4 separate regions of the Homo sapiens genome follow, and regions 2, 3 and 4 are each linked to region 1. Evidence: fine-mapped expression QTL. A gene starts in region 1. Each other region holds a variant in brackets. All regions are shown on one strand. Distances are from middle to middle. Region 1 holds the start of EIF2AK4 (eukaryotic translation initiation factor 2 alpha kinase 4). Region 2 overlaps EIF2AK4 (eukaryotic translation initiation factor 2 alpha kinase 4). Region 3 overlaps EIF2AK4 (eukaryotic translation initiation factor 2 alpha kinase 4). Region 4 overlaps EIF2AK4 (eukaryotic translation initiation factor 2 alpha kinase 4).

The links. PIP is the estimated chance that this variant, and not a neighbour inherited with it, causes the effect. A credible set is the group of variants that fine-mapping cannot tell apart.
Region 2: its variant is the best candidate, but not a certain one, in a credible set for the expression of EIF2AK4 in subcutaneous fat (GTEx, PIP 0.61).
Region 3: its variant is the best candidate, but not a certain one, in a credible set for the expression of EIF2AK4 in thyroid (GTEx, PIP 0.51).
Region 4: its variant is the best candidate, but not a certain one, in a credible set for the expression of EIF2AK4 in nasal epithelium (TOPMed, PIP 0.51).

Annotation. Positions count from the first base shown.
Region 1 is chr15:39,932,815-39,935,430 of GRCh38, reverse strand. It overlaps EIF2AK4 (eukaryotic translation initiation factor 2 alpha kinase 4), which reads right to left and starts at 1,316. Exons shown (of 39, transcript NM_001013703.4): 1 at 1,092-1,316. The coding sequence starts at 1,235. RefSeq lists a silencer at 1,034-1,443 and an enhancer at 1,464-1,603.
Region 2 is chr15:40,000,602-40,003,217 of GRCh38, reverse strand. EIF2AK4 (eukaryotic translation initiation factor 2 alpha kinase 4) reads right to left here. Exons shown (of 39, transcript NM_001013703.4): 21 at 1,994-2,230; 22 at 430-505; 23 at 1-25. Among named protein-coding and RNA genes, the nearest start is that of SRP14, 37 kb to the left of the region's middle. RefSeq lists an enhancer at 636-930. The variant C/T (reference allele first, on the strand shown) is at 1,226.
Region 3 is chr15:40,013,434-40,016,049 of GRCh38, reverse strand. The region is part of intron 27 of EIF2AK4 (eukaryotic translation initiation factor 2 alpha kinase 4); the gene reads right to left. Among named protein-coding and RNA genes, the nearest start is that of SRP14, 24 kb to the left of the region's middle. The variant T/G (reference allele first, on the strand shown) is at 1,156.
Region 4 is chr15:40,005,582-40,008,197 of GRCh38, reverse strand. EIF2AK4 (eukaryotic translation initiation factor 2 alpha kinase 4) reads right to left here. Exons shown (of 39, transcript NM_001013703.4): 24 at 1,133-1,182; 25 at 3-171. Among named protein-coding and RNA genes, the nearest start is that of SRP14, 32 kb to the left of the region's middle. The variant CAAAA/A (reference allele first, on the strand shown) is at 1,195.

The sequences.
Region 1 (2,616 bases):
TTGAGAATAAGCTGCAGTGAGCCGTGGTCATGCCTCTGCACTCCAGCTTGGGAGACAGAGCAAGACCCTGTCTCAAAAAGAAAAAAAAAAAAAGCAGATGAAGTTAGAACTATGTTTTAAATGATAATATGATAATATTCAGAAATAGTTTGGTAGATCAACTCTTCAAGGATGGGGAAAAAACTGTCAGTATAAATACTTTATAACGTGCCTTAATTTCCAGACAAAAAGGCAAAATATTATTTTAAACAAAATGCCATTTTAAAAGGTCTAGAGCTAGAGCAAGCTGGTCTAACCCGAGGCCCATGGGCCGCTTTGAATGTGGCCCAACACGCATTCGTAAACTTTCTTAAAACATTGAGGTTTTTTTGCGAATTTTTTTTTTCTTTTAGGTCATCAGCTATCCTTAGTGTTAGTGTATTTTGTGTGTGGCCCAGGGAAGCCAAAAGATTGGACACTCCTTCTCTAGACTCAGTCTAGAACCCTCTCTCTACTACAGCTAAGATGAATGTGTGCTTTATTCTGAGCTAAATGTCTTAGAGGAAGGTGCAGAGGTATGGAAAGTTCCTCCATACCGGAAAACACAGTGAGGATGCCTGGGGAGTACAGAGGGAATTATGTGGCGTGCAGATTTGAATGCATGGATGAGACTTGAGAATTCTGATTGAGGACGTAAGGCCTGTGCGAGAGCCCAAAAAGCGTTCTCAGAACAAAGTAGCAAGGGGCGCGTATGAATTGCTGTGGTATCATCCGCAAGGGCTTTCAGAGGGGAAAAAGGACAAGGTTGGAAGGAGGCAGTTATGTTATGGGATGTAGGCAGGAATAAGAAGCAGTGCCAGGTAAGAGGGAGGAATCCAGGGGGATTCCTCTGGGGAAATCATGGGGAAAGGACTGTAGAAGAATTCGGCCTAGGTGGGATTCTGCAGACCAGCTGCAGGTGCAAGGACTAAAGTGAGCATGGGTGGAACCTAAGGGATGAAAAGACTGCAGGATCCTAAAGCGGCGGCCCAATCTGGAAGTGTCCGGGCTTTGGCCCAGGGCCCGGGGAGGCCAGGGCACGCCAGCCCGGGCCTGACAAGCCACGTTCCTACCGGTCCGCAAGCGTCCGGCCGCAGGTCTTGGAAGTCCGCGCCGTAAATGGCCTCCAGGGCCTGTAGCTCGTGGTCCTGTCGTTGCGGGTAGCTCTCCGGAGGCTCGTCCCGGCCGCGCCCGGGGGCCCCACGGCCCCCAGCCATGGCAGCGCTGCGCCCAAGGCAGGGCGGCCTTGCCTGGGCGGCGGTGGGCCCCCGGCAGCCTGCGGGGCGGGGCTCCGCGCTGGGGACGGGCTATGGGCGGTGTTCCACGCTGGAAACGGGCTCGTGGGCGGGGTTCCGCGCCGGGGACGGGCCGTAGGCGGAGCTCCGCGCCGGGAGCTAGCTCCGGAGGCTCCAGAAGCCCAGGCGAAGGAAGAAGGCAGGGGGACAGCTTTGCCCACATCCTGCTGGGGGAAGGGGAGCAAAGGAACTCCACGAACTTAAGAAATGAATCACAGATAGGAATGAAAACGCCACATTGTATAGTTTTCACGAAACAAGTATCTTTAACAGAAGTGCTTGCTGGAACTTCTCCACCCTGGCATGGCTAGTGCGGGAAACTCTTTTTTCTTTTTTTTGGCAGAGTTTCGGCTCTTGTTCCCCAGGCTGGAGTGCAGTGGCGCGATCTCGGCTCACTGCAACTTCCGCCTGCCGGGTTCACGCGATTCTCCTGCGTCAGCCTCCAGAGTAGCTGGGACTACAGGCGCGCACCACCACGCCCGGCTAATTTTTCTATTTTTAGTAGAGATGGTGTTTCACCATGTTGGCCAAGATGTTCTCGATCTCCTGACCTTGTGATCCGCCCGCCTCGGCCTTCCAAAGTGCTGGGATTACAGGCATGAGCCACCGCGCCCGGCCGGGAAACTCTTAAAGGGCAGACGTCGATGGGTTCTGAGGTCACTTCTAATTTCACCTTGTACCTTCCCAGAACAAGACTACCGGGAGTAAAAATTGTGACCCCCCCCACCCTCCTTCCTCCCACTTTAGTACCCCCAAACTTATTCTCTGAGCCACAGATTCAACACCCTCATTATGTTCTCTGTCTCTACATTCCCCAGCTTTGGGGATCTCCACTACCACCTTGCAAATTCAATTGAAAACTGTCTTTCCACTCAGGCATCTTTATGAGCTACCTTCCCATGAAGAGAATCATGTTCCCTTCCCAGTTCACTCAGTGTGAATTTAGGGAGTCTTTGTGTTATATCCTGCCTCAAGTCGTCGTTTTTCAAGTTTATAAAATAATAACCTGTCTACCCAGACATTGTTATTGCACTTCATCTTCAGTAACTTACTAATGCTGCATGTCCATTTCGAATAATCCTATTGTACTAACCCAAGTTAGGTTTAAGTGACGTTTCTTCTGTCTACCTTGCTTACTCCTCCACTGTTCACTAAATAATGATTGTGTAAATTCCTTGCTGCCATCTATCCACTCATTTCTGGCCAGATAACACAAATGCACTAGCTTGACCCAAGGCCAATTTAAATCATCATCTTCCCTCTGCTGGAGACCCGTTCCTTCTCCAGTGATCTCTGACTAGGT
Region 2 (2,616 bases), 68 kb before region 1:
AGTGGAGTACACAACTGAACAGCTCCTACACCAAATGAGAAAAAATAGCTCATCATCAGGTTCACATTCTCCTTAGAAGGCAACCTAAAATTAACACAAACCTGACAGTTAAGTAATTGCTACTGGGACCATTGAAGTCATATCAATTTTTCTTGAGTTCTCTAAATTTATAAATAGAGAGCTCATCTAGAGTTAAGTTTGACAGTTTGGTCATATTTCTGACTCCACAAACCAATTGCATTTTAGTATTAATAGTAAGGCTGTAATATTCAAATCAGTTTCAAAAATAAGCTTAAATTCCATATGATGTCAATTATTTATAACTGAATTTGAAAGTAAAATATGATATGCCCGAACACTAACAGTACTTTCTAATGATGAAAAAAGTCTTATGAGAAGAAATATCATTTTTAAAAAGGGCGTACATACCATGTCTTTTAAAGATGCGGATGATGGTTTCACACACATGCTGCTGCATCTTGGCTGTACGGATTGAGAAGTTGCCCTAAAACAGGACCGATTAAAACATCATCATTGAAGCCTTATCAAAGGGATCCTTTAAAATATTAATCTGTGGCTTGCAGTAGGCACTACACTGCTTATTTCCAGGTTCAAAAAACAAGTCTTGACAAGTCCATCCCTCTTTGAACACATCAGGGAAGAGGACACATATCTTTCATGGCCTGCTTTGGAAAGCAAGAGCTAACCTTTCAACCAATGGGAAGGATGCCTGGGTTCAAAGTCCAAATTCTTGGCCACATTGATATTTGCCTTTCAGAGGGAGATAATCAAATAAACACATTCTCTCTGACTCTCAGGGATACTGTGGCGCGATGACCACCTAACAGCATCAGGCCCCTCCCACATACCAAGGTGATTCATGGCAGGCCTGTTGAAAGCTACATGGCATTTACATATTTTGCCAATAGCTTTCTTTTTCATTTGTTTTTGTATTATAAAAGTAGTACCATTTCACTATAGAAAATTTAGAAACAACACATATGAAAAAAGACATCTATAAAAAAGTCACCTATAATCCTGCAAATATCTTTCTATAATAATATTGCCAGCCAGTAAAAATTGTGTTTGGTCTCTAAAATCTATACTGATCTTTCATAAATTTTACTATGACTTCCTCCACTACTCTATCTTTTTAAATTATATCATATATATTAAGCAAACAGAAACATAATAGAGAATATAACAAATACCTGTTACCTACTCA[C/T]CCAACTTTAACACATTTTAACATTTCACTAATATGCTTCAGATTTTTTTTCTTTTTAAAAGAAATTAAATGTTAAAGTCTTCCCAAACTGGCAACCTGGCTACACTTCAGAAACTGCTTGGGAGCTTTTAATGAGATTCTGAAATGCCTCACACCTGGAGATTCTGAGCCACTAGATGGGCTACGGGACCTGGGCATCTGCATTGTCAGAGAGTTTCTGAGATGAAGTAGATGTGCAACCAGCACTGGGAACTACTTTATACTTCATCTAGATATGAGCTGGTTGATGCTTATGGCTCTGGGCGTTTGGGCTAGGGATCAGTCTCTAAATGCACTGTTTCTTTTTTTTTTTTTTTTTTGAGTTGGGGTCTTGCTCTGTCTCCCAGGCTGGAGTGCAGTGGCACGATCTCGGCTCTCTGCAACCTCCGCCTGCCTCCCAGGCTCAAGCGATTCTCCTGCCTCAGCCTCCCGGGTAGCTGGGATTACAGGTGCATGCCACCACGCACGGCTAATTTTTGTAGGCACTGCTTCTTAATCTCTTGGGTGGGTAGGGAGGAGGAAAGGTCAAGGACTCCTTCAAGTAGGTGACTGAAAGTATGGGTCCTCTTCCCTGAATGCATATACACACATTTTGCATGTACTTTTAGGGGCTTCCAATACCTCACATAAGAACTTATGTTAGAGGCATTAAAAGAATCTGTGAGAAACTGGCTTGATCCTTTTGTGGACAAGGTGAAGCTCCCTTTGTGCAGCGTGGCTTAAGCCCACCTTCAGTATGTCGCTGTCATAGGTGTAATCGATGGCAGGGGAGATGCGCTGCGAGAAGATCTGGGCCATCATGGTGCGGTAGGCCTTCCCATCCACGTTGGTCAGCGTGTGGTGCAGCACTTCATGCAGCTCTGACTCCTCCATCTGGGGTGGGGGCAGCAGCTCACTCTTGAGCAGTTCTGTGGCTGTGGGCCGTTTTGCTGGATCGTGGTTCAACAGCCAGGAGATGACTGATTTCTACAATAAAACCCAGGCACACTGCTAATGGGATGCAATGGATAATGCTCAGCTATTCTCCGGACAAGTCAGTAGTCAGTTCAGGTCAAAGAAAAGGTGCCACTATTCTTGCACTTAACTGACATTCTGAAATTTCTGAATAGGTCATTATTTTTTCTGCTTTATTATGACCACAGAGTTGTGCAACAATGTAGTATGAACATTTCTTAAAAGGAGGCCCCTTGTTTTTATACCTTATTGTCACAACCAAAAAAAATCAAATCAACAACTACATAGAAGCAGAAATTAGGCCTTATAAACACAGAAAATATCGTATAAAAAGATGTAAAAAGATAAAACAAATAGCTTTACATGCCTAATTTTAGTAGAAATTGTAATGCATAATA
Region 3 (2,616 bases), 81 kb before region 1:
TCCTATTTGCAACCTTGAGATGTCTTCTCCTGTGGGCAGCCTCCTGATCCTCCCTTCCCTCTCCTCCCACCTGGATGCCAGATCCTGGCTGTCACCAGCTGTACTCATAGACTGCCCCAGAAGAGGTCAGTGGCTAGAGATGATTGATCTCACAGTCCCTGGTACTCAGCTGGAGTAAGAGGAAACAACCATAGTCATAAAGCCAGAAAGAAAACTCCCAGGAGCTAAAGTAGAAATTATTAAGAAACAAAATTATAGCCATTTTAAGACTGTAGGCAAGTACAACCTAGTTCATCCATAAATTGGCACATGAAACCTAAGGGCTAAATGAAGGCTCAGATTGACATAGCTTAATCTTAGAGTTAATCATAAATCACTTAAATTTTTAAAAAACCCAAAAAATGTTAAAACCTCCTATAATCTTGATATGGTTTGGCTGTGTCCCTACTCAAATCTCATCTTGAATTGTAGCTCCTACAATTCCCATGTGTCATGGGAGGGATCCAGTGGGAGGTAACTGAATCATGTGGGCGGGTCCTTCCCATGATAGTCTCATGATAGTGAATAAGTCTCACAAGATCTGATGGTTTTATAAAGAGGAGTTTCCCTGCACAAGTTCTCTCTCTTTGCCTGCTGCCAACCATGTAAGACATGACTTGTTCCTCTTTGCTTTCCACCATGATTGTGAGGCCTCCTCAGCCACAGAGAACTGTGAGTTCATTAAACCTCTTTCCTTTATAAATTACGCAGTTTCGTGTATGTCTTTATTAGCAGCACGAGAACAAACTAATACAGTAAATTGGTACCGGTAGAGTTGGGCTGTAAAGATACCCAAAAATGTGGAAGTGACTTTGGAACTGGGTAACAGGCAGAGGTTGGAACAGTTTGGAGGGCTCAGAAGAAGACAGGAAAATGGGGGAAAGTTTGGAACTTCCTAGAGACTTGTTGAATGGCTTTGACCAAAATGCTGATAATGATGTGGTCAATGAAATCCAGGCTGAGGTGGTCTCAGATGGAGATGAGGAACTTGTTGGGAACTGAAGTAAAGGTGATTCTTGCTATGTTTTAGCAAAGAGACTGGCAGAATTTTGCCCCTGCCCTAGAGATTTGTGAAACTTTGAACTTGAGGGAGATGATTTTGGGTACCTGGCAGAA[T/G]AAATTTCTAAGCAACAAAGCATCAAGAGGTGACTTGGGTGCTGTTAAGACCATTCAGTTTTAAAAGGAAAACAGAGCATAAAAATTCAGAAAATTTGCAGCCTGACAATGAGACAGGAAAGAAAACCCCATTCTCTGAGGAAAAATTCAAGCCAGCGGCAGAAATTTGCATAAGTAACAAGGAGCCAAGTGTTAATCACCAAAACAATGGGGAAAATGTCTCCAGGGCATGTCAGAGGTCTTCATGGCAGGCCCTCCCATCACAGGCCTGGAGGCCTAGGAGGAAAAAATGGTTTCGTGGGCTGGCCCCAGGGCCCCCCTCCTCTATGTAGCTTAGGGACTTGGTGCCCTGTGTCTAAGCTGCTCCACCCATGGCTAAAGGGGGCCAAGGTATGTACAGCTCAGGCTGTTGCTTCAGAGGGTTCAAGCCCCAAGCTTTGGCAGCTTCCATGTGCTGTTGAGCCTGCAGATGCACGGAAAACAAGAATTGAGGTTTGGGAACCTCCGCCTAGATTACAGAGGATGTATGGAAACGCCTGGATGCCCAGGCAGAAGTTTGCTGCAGGGGTGGGGCTCTTATGGAGAACCTCTGCTAGGGCAGTGCAGAAGGGAAATGTGGGTTTGCAGCCCCCATACAGAGTCCCTACTAAATGCTAGTCCATGGAAGCATCCAGGAGGGAGGCTGTACCCTGCAAAGCCACAGGTGGGGAGCTGCCCAAGGCCATGGGAGCCTACCCCTGGCATCAGCATCACCTGGGTGTGAGACATGGAGTCAAAGGAGATCATTTTGGAGCTTTCAGATTTGACTGCCCTGCTGGATTCTAGACTTGCATGGGGCCTTTAGCCCCTTTGTTTTGGCCAATTTCTCCCATTTGGAATGGGTGTATTTATCCAATGCCTGTACTCTCATTGTATCCAGGAAGTAACTCACTTGTTTTTGATTTTACAGGCTCATAGGCGGAAGGGACTTGCCTTGTTTCAGATGAGACTTTGGACTGTGGACTTTTGAGTTAATGCTGAAATGAGTTAAGACTGTGGGGGACTGTCAGGAAGGCATGATTGGTTTTGAGATGTGAGGACATGAAATTTGGGAGGGGCCATGGGTAGAATGATATGGTTTAGCTGTGTCCCCATGCAAATTTCATCTTGAACTGTAGCTCCCACAATTCCCCTGTGTCATGGGAGGGACCCAGTGGGAGGTAATTGAATCGTGGGGGCGGGTCCTTCCCATGCTGGTCTTGTGATAATGAATAAGTCTCACGAGATCTGATGGTTTTATAAAGAGGAGTTCCTCTGCACAAGTTCTCTCTCTTTGCCTTCTGCCATCCATATAAGATGTGACTTGCTCCTCCTTGCCTTCTGCCATCCATATAAGACGTGACTTGCTCCTCCGTGCCTTCTGCCATGATTGTGAGGCCTCCCCAGCCATGTGGAACTGTGAATCCATTAAACCTCTTTCCT
Region 4 (2,616 bases), 73 kb before region 1:
ACCTGAAGTGCTGGAAACTCTTGGATGATTTCATAGATAGTGTAGATAATTTCAGCAGTGGGCAGAAAGCTGTTGGTGGTAGAAGTGACAATATCAAATGCACACTCCAGAAGTTCTTTGGGATGAAATCGATCTAACTTGCGCGGCCTGAACACACGTTCTATGCAGTATCTGGAGAGAGAAACCCAGATTTCTAAGGTCATTGCTTACTAGAAAGAAATATGTATAAGAAATTGTTGAACAAGATATAAGAAACAAATATGAAAAAAAATTAATCGGTGGTATGATCAAGAGGACTGAAAGACAAATTTGACCTGGAACAGCCTTGCCTTGTGATCTAGGTTCCAATTCCCAGTTTTGCCACTATTAAGCTATGGGGCTTAAGGTTTTTTAAATGTCTGAAATAGAGATGAAATTACACCAAAAAATTTTACCTTAGTGATTGCTTTCTACACAGGGATACCCACACCATAGGACTACGATTATTAATTATTCACTTGTAGCTAGAATAAAAGCATGTAAAGAGCTTTGCTTTCAGTTGAAGAAAGGAGCTTTAAAGTAGGGTGCCTCATTGACAACAATACTGCTCCAAATTATGAAGATCTCAGTGTTGGACCCCTGTGGTATTTGAATGTACAGAAAGCCTTTTTCCAGGGCTAAGTGCCTGGAGGTCCTCAGCGCTCAGCGTTCCTGCTGGGTTTACTCCACTTCTCTACAAGCAGCTTTTGTTCGGTTACCTGTGTAGGCAGTTTTCACATAGAGACCACTGGCCATTTGTCCCACCAATTAAGTTTTAAAAGGGGCCATCTGTGATCATGAACAGCCAGATGTTTTTATCAAGCAACCGTTTGTGAAAATAATTAGTAATGTTGCTTGGGGACATTTAGAAGGTACAGAATAGACTGTGGGAACATGACGGTACCTACCTGCTACATTCCTTCTAACAGTCCTAGTTACCTTACAGGAAGGGGTACTGTGGCTGGGCTTCTGGTTCATATTCTAAGCTCAATATTCTGAACCCAGAATTCTTAACTGTGTAAGGATCACAGGAAATAAAATATTCTTTCCTGGTTGACAAATTATTCAACTATTTTCCTATGTCTACCAAATGGAATCTCCTATTGTTTCTTACCGTTTTAAATTCAATATATTATTTCTTGCCACATATCTTGCAAAAGGGATCTGAAAAATAAA[CAAAA/A]TATGAAAGGTCAATGTCAAAATGTGCCTTTTGTTAATAGCGGCTTTATTGAAACATAACTCCTGTCCCATAAAGTTCACCCCTTTAAAGTATGTACTTCAGTGGCTTTTAGTGTATTCACTAAGTTATGCACTGCTCACCACTCACACTCCCTGAAATGTTCTTCAGTGTTTTGGTCAGTGGTGGACTCCGCTGCTAGACATACCATCAACCTTATTCACTGTGGCATTTCTTAGGTTTTTTTTAAAATTCACTTTTAGTTAAATATTCTCTGTGGAGCTTTTATTATGTCCAACTAAAATTAGTGCAAGTTATTTATTTATGAATTTAAAAAAAATGTCACTTTTATAGTAATGCAGTCAAAATGGGTATTATCTCTTATGGTGAATTTCCTGATTTTCCTATCAATCTCTTAGAATAAATTCTTAATAAACACCTTCAAATAGTAACCACAACTAGTAAAACCATTGTTAGATTGCCCCAACAGATCCAACATGGTATCATTACCACTGATGGGCCAAATTCTCAACATACATTCACTTTTTAATTTTTTGCATTTCAATATCAGCTTATAGAATGGGAGCTGATATTTAAAAATCTGCACTTTAGTCTCCTAATATTTAGAGAATAAGAAGCCAGCTTTAAGTATAGCTATGTAAATATTTGTACTTCTATTCTTTTTTTTTCAACAAAACGCAAATGTCTCATCTGATTTGCTGTTTATTTACCTCTACCTCAGAATAATCCCACATCACTTTACTCACTATAAAAGAAAAACAGAAGTGAGGAATGTGGAAGGAATTTCTTCTTAGACTATAAACACAAAACCTGTTTCACAATAAGCCATATGACATACATTTAAAAAAAGATTCCACTCCCCCCTCCAAAAAGTATGGTCAAAATGAGTGTATTCTTTGACACCTTACTCTTTGGTGATACAAACAACCTGATGTGCACGGTCATTCAGACACGTGAATGTGACAAGTTCAAGTTTTGCTTTTTGGAGCTTTGTGAATTTTTTTTTTTTTTCTGAGTATCTTCCATCCTCGGTTGGATCCATGGATACAGAAACCACCCAAGGATGTAGAGGGCCAAATATATATATCTACACATATATCAAGTGTATGCAGGCCGGGTGCGGTGGCTCACGCCTGTAATCCCAGCACTCTGGGAGGCCCAGGTGGGCGGATCACGAGGTCAGGAGATCAAGACCATCCTTGCTAATACAGTGAAACACTGTCTCTACTAAAAATACAAAAAATTAGCCGGGCATGGTAGCGGGCACCTACAGTCCCAGCTACTCGGGAGGGTGAGGCAGGAGAATGGCGTGAACCCGGGAGGCGGAGCTTGCAGTGAGCTGAAATCACGCCACTGCCCTCCAGCCTGAGAGACAGAGTGAGACTCCATCTCAAAAAAAA